2 linked regions of the Homo sapiens genome follow. The protein of the gene in region 1 purifies or fractionates together with the protein of each later gene. This does not show direct contact. Each region holds a gene or a part of one and is shown on either strand. Other genes may lie near its edges. The genes, in order: TIMP4 and COL14A1.

The links.
Region 2: the proteins of TIMP4 (region 1) and COL14A1 purify together in Homo sapiens (affinity purification with mass spectrometry; one large-scale study listed by BioGRID and IntAct). This does not show direct contact.

The regions. Positions count from the first base shown.
Region 1 is NC_000003.12:12,155,973-12,160,540, reverse strand, and holds the start of TIMP4 (metalloproteinase inhibitor 4 precursor), read left to right. Parts: upstream 1-1,628; 5' UTR 1,629-1,700; coding exon 1,701-1,839; intron 1,840-1,949; coding exon of another isoform or gene 1,950-2,051; exon of another isoform or gene 2,052-2,649; intron 2,650-3,058; coding exon 3,059-3,156; intron 3,157-3,606; coding exon 3,607-3,721; intron 3,722-4,568. UniProt on the Homo sapiens protein: Complexes with metalloproteinases (such as collagenases) and irreversibly inactivates them by binding to their catalytic zinc cofactor. Known to act on MMP-1, MMP-2, MMP-3, MMP-7 and MMP-9.
Region 2 is NC_000008.11:120,275,053-120,278,869, forward strand, and holds part of COL14A1 (collagen alpha-1(XIV) chain isoform 1 precursor), read left to right. Parts: intron 1-2,432; coding exon of another isoform or gene 2,433-2,447; exon of another isoform or gene 2,448-2,880; intron 2,881-3,058; coding exon 3,059-3,182; intron 3,183-3,382; coding exon 3,383-3,526; intron 3,527-3,817. UniProt on the Homo sapiens protein: Plays an adhesive role by integrating collagen bundles. It is probably associated with the surface of interstitial collagen fibrils via COL1.

The sequences.
Region 1 (4,568 bases):
TCAGACTCAGCTCTCTTTCAATTCCCTTCTTTTCAAATATCACTAACACCATCAAAATGAAAAGGTATCCTTTGAAGGAAATAATGTTGACCCTGATGAAAAGTCAGACTCCTATGGGAACTAAGATTTGAACAGATACTGGGGGTATCTGGCCTGAGGATCTCAGCATTCCTGGTTGAGGCCAGCCAAGGATGGGAAGAAGAACTTCAAAGGGCTTTAGAAATCACGTAGTTCAACTCTACTTTATGAAGAAAAAACTGAGGCCCAGAGAGGCAAAAGTCACAAAGCTACAGTGACAGTCAGAATTGGAACCCAGCCTCCCACTATCCAGTCCAGCACCATGTGGAAACATCCCACAGCAATAATCCCATGGAGATTTGGGATTTGGAGGCTTGCAACACTGTGCCCAAACAGCAGACAAGGCTCTGGTCACAGTCACCCCCAAGTCCCCTGCTTCTTTGTTTTTTCTTTTACTTTTTTTTTTTTTTTTTTTTTTTTGAGACGGAGTCTCACTCTGTCGCCCAGACTGGAGTGCAGTGGCACAGTCTCAGCTCACTTCAACCTCCGCCTCCTGGGTTCAAGCCATTCTCTTGCCTCAGCCTCCTGAGTACCTGGGACTACAGGTGTAGGCCACCACGCCCGGCTAACTTTTGTATTTTTAGTAGGGACGGAGTTTCATCATGATGGCTAGGGTGATCTCGAACTCCTGACCTCAGGTGATCAACCCGCCTTGGCTTCCCAAAGTGCTGAGATTACAGGCGTGAGCCACCACGCCCAGCCTGCTTCTTTGTTTTCTAAGCTGTCCCACCTTCTAGAACATGACAGAGTCTCCAGTGAGAAGGGACATGCAATAAAAATCAATGTAGTCTAGGGCCTCGAGAGGGCTTTGAGGTCCAAGGTTTGCCCTAAGTGATGGGACACTTTGTGTTTTGTACACCAAGAGCGCTGTCTCCAGCTATCTGGAGAGTCTGAGGCTCTGGGAGTGAGAAAGGGTTTCTAAAGCACTGGCTGCTTCTTTGACATCTCTCCCCACCCCCCAGGCAACAGAGCCAAGACACACACACCCCAACTTTCTCTGTCCTGTTCTATTACTGTTTGCTGTTGCTTTGGAGCCTCATAAATAGGGCATTGAAAGCACTTCCTGCAGCTGAAAGAAGCCCTGAGTAGCTCGTCTCATTCCCAGCGTGCAGCTCAGCAAGGGGTCCGTCCTTCTCTGTCACTGTCTCTTTTGCCTGTTGTAATTCTGTCTGCCTCTCTGGGACTCTGCCTGTCTCACTCTTTCTGTCTGTGCCTCTCCTCACTCTTGTTCTTTCTGCCTGAATCACAGCCCTCAGTTTTTCTGTCCTCATGCATTTGTCTTTGTGGCTCTTTCCGTCTTTCTGCCCTTGACACCATCCCCTCTCCCAGTGCTTCCCCTCTGCTTCCAGATCGCTTCATGACTTAGGCAGGGAAACAGAGGTCAGGGCCTCCTTCCAGGCTTCCCTCTGCATCTTACTGAGTATGCAGGTCGGAAGAGCCTCGGGTCCTGCCTCCGCGGGTGGCCTAGAGCCAAAGGAAGGCGGAGCCCGTCGGGGCGGGATTGGCCCTTAGGGCCACCTCATAAAGCCTGGGGCGAGGGGCACAACGGCCTTGGGAAGGAGCCCTGCTGGGGCCGTCCAGTCCCCCAGACCTCACAGGCTCAGTCGCGGATCTGCAGTGTCATGCCTGGGAGCCCTCGGCCCGCGCCAAGCTGGGTGCTGTTGCTGCGGCTGCTGGCGTTGCTGCGGCCCCCGGGGCTGGGTGAGGCATGCAGCTGCGCCCCGGCGCACCCTCAGCAGCACATCTGCCACTCGGCACTTGGTGAGTCCGAGGTCCGCGAGGTCCACAGCAGGGGGTGGTTGTGGGGGATTAGTATCTGGCCAGCAGTACACCAGGAGTCCAGAGGAAAAGGGAGGAGCTCAAATTCTTACCGGTTGTCTCTTGCTGAGGCTGATGGGTGGAGAAGGACCAGGCGCCATAGCAACCTTGCAAGCCCAGAACCTGACTGATTCATAAGGAAATGAAGATTTCATCAGGGACTTCCATAGCGACCTCCCTCACTCCGGCCATACTGCAATTATGGAGTGTCATTACACAAGGTGTCACCGGAGCTATCTGATGATTATTCTGAACTACTAGACTGGGGACAGAAAGGGGAGGGGAGAGGGCTTGCATTGTAACTACCCGTGTCTGTCCAGGCCTATAACTGAGGTTGCCACCAAGCCCCTATGGCAACACACACGTTCTGTCCTTTCTCTTCCCTCTGCCTGGAATGCCCTCCCTCACACCCTTAAATTCCTGGCAGACTCCTACTCATCCTTCAAGGGCTAACTTAGGTCTCTCCCCTTCTCTGCAGGCTCCCGGGCTCCTTGGTGCCGCCTCAGCATCTCTAACCGTCTTAGCGCTCCTACTATGCTGTGCTGTTGTTCTTTACACGTGTGCACTCCACTAGATCAAGAGCTCGGCAGGATGGGGACCCTGTCTTAATCACATCTATGGGCCTAGTGCCTAGTGCAAGGCCAGGCACAGAGGAAGAACATCATCAACAGTTTTTGGTTATTAATGCTCAAATGGCAAGAGATGCAATACCTCAGTGCAGGGTCAGAACATTTATGAATTCAATAAACATTTACTAATATCAACTGTAGGCGGGATGAGAGGCCTTGACCACAGCAATAGATAAACTTCACACCGACTGCCCTGAAGGGGCTCCTCCTCCCTTCTCTACTCTGACTCCTACCCTGTGCCCCACTGCACAAACGGCTATGGAGAACTAGAGCTCTCCAGACTAACTGGTTCAAAAGGCAGAAACAGCTTAGCGGTTATAGGACCTAATAAGCCTGAGGGGTTTGGAACTTCCAGTGACTGCAGGGGAGGTGTTTCCAGGTCCCCCTTCTCACACATCACGTTGCTCACAACCCAGCCACACCAAAACCAAGAACTGCCCTATAGACTTCTTCATGGACCCTGGATCATCCAGACCTCAGGTGTATTGCCCCCACCAGCTGCTGAAGGTTCCCTCTTTTCTCTTCCTATGCAGTGATTCGGGCCAAAATCTCCAGTGAGAAGGTAGTTCCGGCCAGTGCAGACCCTGCTGACACTGAAAAAATGCTCCGGTATGAAATCAAACAGATAAAGGTACATGGGGGCAGGCTGGGATGTGTAGCCCCTAAGGCTGATGGAGAAAGTGGAGTCTGTGTTCTGGGAGGGCTGGTAGCTTTCAGGTGGCCTGGCTCAGTAATCCTTGGGTCTAGATACTGAAGTGGAACTGGATGAGATTTGGAGGCAGAGCCCATAGAATCCCAGGGATATTGCCAGGGAGGGCCTCAGCATCCATCTGGTCCCACAGCTGCTGGTGTATGGTGCCACTACAGGTACCTACTGGAATAAACCAAGGTTTAGGTGTTTTTTGTTGTTGTTGTTTTGTTTTAAGAGAGAAAATAACCCAGTAGGGACATCTGAGGACACAAAATCCTCAACTAGACTTTTGCTTACATTTTTAGGCTGAGAAGTGAGAGGTTTTTGTCTGTTAATATATACAGTACACTCACTGACCCAATATTGCCTTTTTTTGTAATTGCCTGTCAGATGTTCAAAGGGTTTGAGAAAGTCAAGGATGTTCAGTATATCTATACGCCTTTTGACTCTTCCCTCTGTGGTGTGAAACTAGAAGCCAACAGCCAGAAGCAGTATCTCTTGACTGGTAAGTTAAAAGACCAACAACTGGCCTTAATATAATAGATTCTGCCCTAGGGGAGGTAGTGAGAAAGGAGCCAGGGTCTTCCTTGGGCAGTAGGCTGAGCCAGGTGGCATTTTCTTGGGCATAAAACAGAGCTGTGTTAGTGACAGACAACCTCTGGGTTAGGAGGAGCCTTGTAACCTCCCTTTAAATGTAAGAGTTCTTAGTACAGTGACCCTGGCCACCGTTTCACTATTTTAAGGACAGGCTGCTCACCCAGTGTAGGGCAGCTGCTTCCGTTTTTCAAATAGTTTAAATTAGTATAAGATTTTTGGCAACTTGAGTCGAAGTCTCCTCTCTAAAACTGCTCCTTGCAGGTCAACTCTGCCTTTTGCACAGGACTTAACAGGAGCTTGAGTCTAACATAGTTCTGTCTCTGTGAACTTGGGCCCAGGCAGGATTCCTCCATACTGAATTGGCTGGGATAGAACAGTTAAAGAATCACACAAAAATATGACTCCATAAATGAATGCAACATTAAATTATTTTGGAGTTCAGAGAACGGAACTATTTGGTAGTTGTGAACTATCAGGGAAGCTTCATTGTGTAGGTGGGATCTAAACTGGCCTGAAAACATAAAACAATATTTAGAAAGAAAGCAAGGGAAAGAAAAAGCACAGCAGTGGGGGAGGGAACAGGTGAAGGGATTCCACGATCTATCCACACATTCAGCAATGAATGACCACTTAGTCACTGCCATGCCTTGGCCAGGAGAGTGGAGATTCAGTAACAAGGCACAGTCCTTAAAAGAGTTCACTGTCCAGACATGGCTCTTGATGAGTCATAGGCACTGGAGGCTACAATGATAAGG
Region 2 (3,817 bases), on another chromosome or scaffold:
GAAAAAAATCTGGAGGCATCACATTACCTGACTTCAAAGTATACTACAAGACCATAGTTACTAAAACAGCATGATACTGATATAAAAATAAGCACATAAACTAATGGAACAGAAGAGAGAACCCAGAAATAAAGTCAAATACATACAACCAACTGATCTTGGACAAAACATTCAAAAACATAAATTGGGGAAATGACACCCTATTTAATAAATGGCACTGGGAAAACTGGATAGCCACATGTAGAATGAAACTGGATCCCTACCTCTCACCTTATACAAAAATCAACTCAAGATGGATCAAAGCCTTAAATCTAAGACCTGAAATGATAAAAATTCTAGGAGATAACCTGCGAAAAACTCTTCTGGACATTGACCTGGCAAGGAATTTATGACTAAGACTCCAAAAGCAAATTCAACAAAAACAAAAATAAATAAATGGTACCTAATTAAACTAAAAACCTTCTGAACAGCTAATCATCAGAGTAAACAGAAAACACAAGAATGGGAGAAAATATTTGCAAACTATGCATCTGACAAAGAACTAATATCCAGAATCTACAAGAAACACACACAAATCAGCAAGAAAAAAACAAATATCTCATCAAAAAATGGGAAAATGGCATGAATAAACATTTCTCAAAAGAAGATACACAAATGGCCCACAAACATATGGAAAAATGCTCAACATCACTAATCATCATGGAAATGCAGATTAAAACCACAATGAGATACCTCCTTGCCCCTGTAAGAATGGCCATTATTATAAGTCAAAAAACAATAGATGTCGGTGTGGATGTGGTGAAAAGGAAATATTTATACACTGCTGGTGGGCATGTAATTTAGTATAACCTCTATGGAAAACAGTGTGGAGATTTCTTAAAGAACTAAAAGTAGATTTACCTTTGGTTCCAGCAATCCCAGTACTGGCTATCTACCCAAAGGAAAAGAAGTCATTATGTCAAAAGACACCAGTAAACATATGTTTATTTTAGCACAATTCACAAATGCAAAGATATAGAACCAACTTCAGTGCCTGTCATCCAATGAGTAAAGACAATGTTATATATATATGTAAAAAAATATATTATATATATATTTTACACAAACACACACCATGGAATACTACTCAGCCATAAAAAAGAACAAAGTAATGTACTTTGCAGCAGCTTGAATGGAGGCCATTATTCTAAGTGAAGTAATTCAGGAATGGAAAATCAAATACCGTATGTTCTCACTTTTAAGCGAGAGCTAAGCTGTAGCTACACAAAGGAACACAGGGTGGTATAATGGACTTGGAGACTCAGAGTGGGGAGGGTGGAAGGTGGATGAAGGATAAAAAAACTACATACTAGATAGAATGTACACTACTTGGGTGATGGGTGCACTAAAATCTCAAACCTTGCCACTATACAATTCAACCATGTAACCAAATACCCTTGTACTCCAAAAGTATTGTAAATAAAAATAGGTTCCCCACCCTGTGTCCAAGTGTTCTCATTGTTCAATTCCCACCTATGAGTGAGAACATGCAGTGTCTGGTTTTCTGTCCTTGTGATAGTTTGCTCAGAATGCTGGTTTCCAGTTTCATCCATGTCCCTTCAAAGGACATGAACTCATCCTTTTTTATGGCTGCATGGTGGGGGTAAGGGGGAGGGATAGCATTAGGAGATATACCTAATGTAAATGACGAGTTAATGGGTGCAGCACACCAACATGGCACATGTATACATATGTAACAAACCTTCACATTGTGCACAGGTACCCTAGAACTTAAAGTATAATAATAAAAAAAAATAAAATAAAATTAGGTTATTAAAAAAGAGGAGAATAGGTAACATGCTGAGGCATGTCAGAAAGAAGCAAGTTCCCTTTGAATTGCAGGAGACTTTATAAAAATGGTGACATGTCCAGTAGACTGATAAACTGGCAGCAGCTTAAGGCCCATTTAAACAAAGCTCTCGAAAGATGCTATCTTTACTTATTAAATCATAATTCTGAAAAACAAATAAAAAACAATTAAAAATGATCCAAAAGTTCCACAGGAATAAAAGCCAGTTGTAAGAACTGAAGCCAGAAAGCTTTGTATAGTAGTGGTTAAGAACATACATTTTGACCTAGAATAGACCTAACTTCAACTGTTGACTCTGCCAGTGACCACTCTTGTGATGTGCAAGTAACTTGTCTTTTGCAGCTCAGTTTCCTCAAGTGTAAAGTGAGTAGAATAGTAGTAATTACTTCATAGGTTTGCTTCATAAGGAAATCTTTGTAAAGAGTCTAACTCTGATTTTCGGACATTTGTCAAGTTACCAAGCTTAGGCTGCCATTTTTAAACTGTCAAATGAGGTGGCAAAAATCCTACAAGCTTGAAAGATTTTTAAAAAACTACTTTCTGAAAGTACTGAGAGACACATGCACTCCTATGTTCATTGCAGCACTATTCACAGTAACAAACATGGAATGCCCATCAATGGTGGACTGCGTAAAGAAAATGTGGTGAACATACAGCAAGAAATACTACGCAGCCATAAAAAAGAACAAAATCATGTTCTTTGCAGCAACACGGGTGCCTCTGGAAGCCATTATCTTGTGCAAATTAACACAGAAACATGAAACCAAATACTGCATGCTCTCACTTAGAAGTGGGAGCTAAACATCGAGTACACACGGACGTAAAGACGGGAACAATAGACACTAGGGGCTACTAGTAGGGGGAGAATAGAAGGAGGCTGAAGGTTGAAAAACTGCCTATTGGGAACTATGCTCACTACCTGGGGGACAGAATCATTTGTACACCACCTCTCAGTGACATGCCGTTTACCCATGTAACAAACCTACACAATGTACCCTCTGAATCTAAAATAAAATTTTTAAAAAAGAAAAGATGTATTTAATTTGTCTTCAAATTTGGTATGTAACTTGTATGAAAGAAATTTTAATCCAAGCAGATTTTGTAATGAGATAATGAAGAAATTAAAACTACAGGTGACACTGTGCTGTTGCTCTCTGACCCAGTGGAAGTCTACATATGTGTGAAAATGAATACACCTTCTCTCTCCAGGTTGCAATGGTTCAGTTCACTGATGATCCCAGAACAGAATTTAAACTAAATGCTTACAAAACCAAAGAGACTCTTCTTGATGCAATTAAACACATTTCATACAAAGGAGGAAATACAAAAACAGGTATGACCAAAAGAAGCCCAGCTAAGGCTCAAAGTAATTCATTATTTGTAACTACTGAAATGACCTTTTATTTTAAGGCATAGTAATTTTTTAAAGATTTTTTTTTTCATTAATTTAAGAACTTTGTTCCCACCCTTTCTTCTCCAGAAAAACAAAAATGGGAGGGAGTGAAATCAAACTGTTGCCTTTCTTTGTTTCAGGAAAAGCAATTAAGTATGTTCGAGATACCTTGTTCACTGCAGAGTCAGGTACAAGAAGGGGCATCCCAAAGGTTATCGTGGTTATAACTGATGGAAGATCACAAGATGATGTGAACAAAATCTCCAGGGAGATGCAATTAGATGGTAAGATATATAAACAATAGTGGCTACCAAATATGATGTTAGAATTGTTATTTTCTAAATACAAATTTATAGGCTATATCAGCATTACTTAAATGTTTTAAAATATTTCTTCATATTAACTAGACAGTGTAATTTTTAAAATACTTTCTGGTATACAAATCTGTAATTGTACTGCTTTGTTAGAGAAAATAGGTTATTTTCTCTAACACTTTTGTTACATACAGGATGCCCTTTATATGGAACTCTAGCAATTAAGTACTGTAAGAAAAGGACCAGGGAAAGAATCTTATT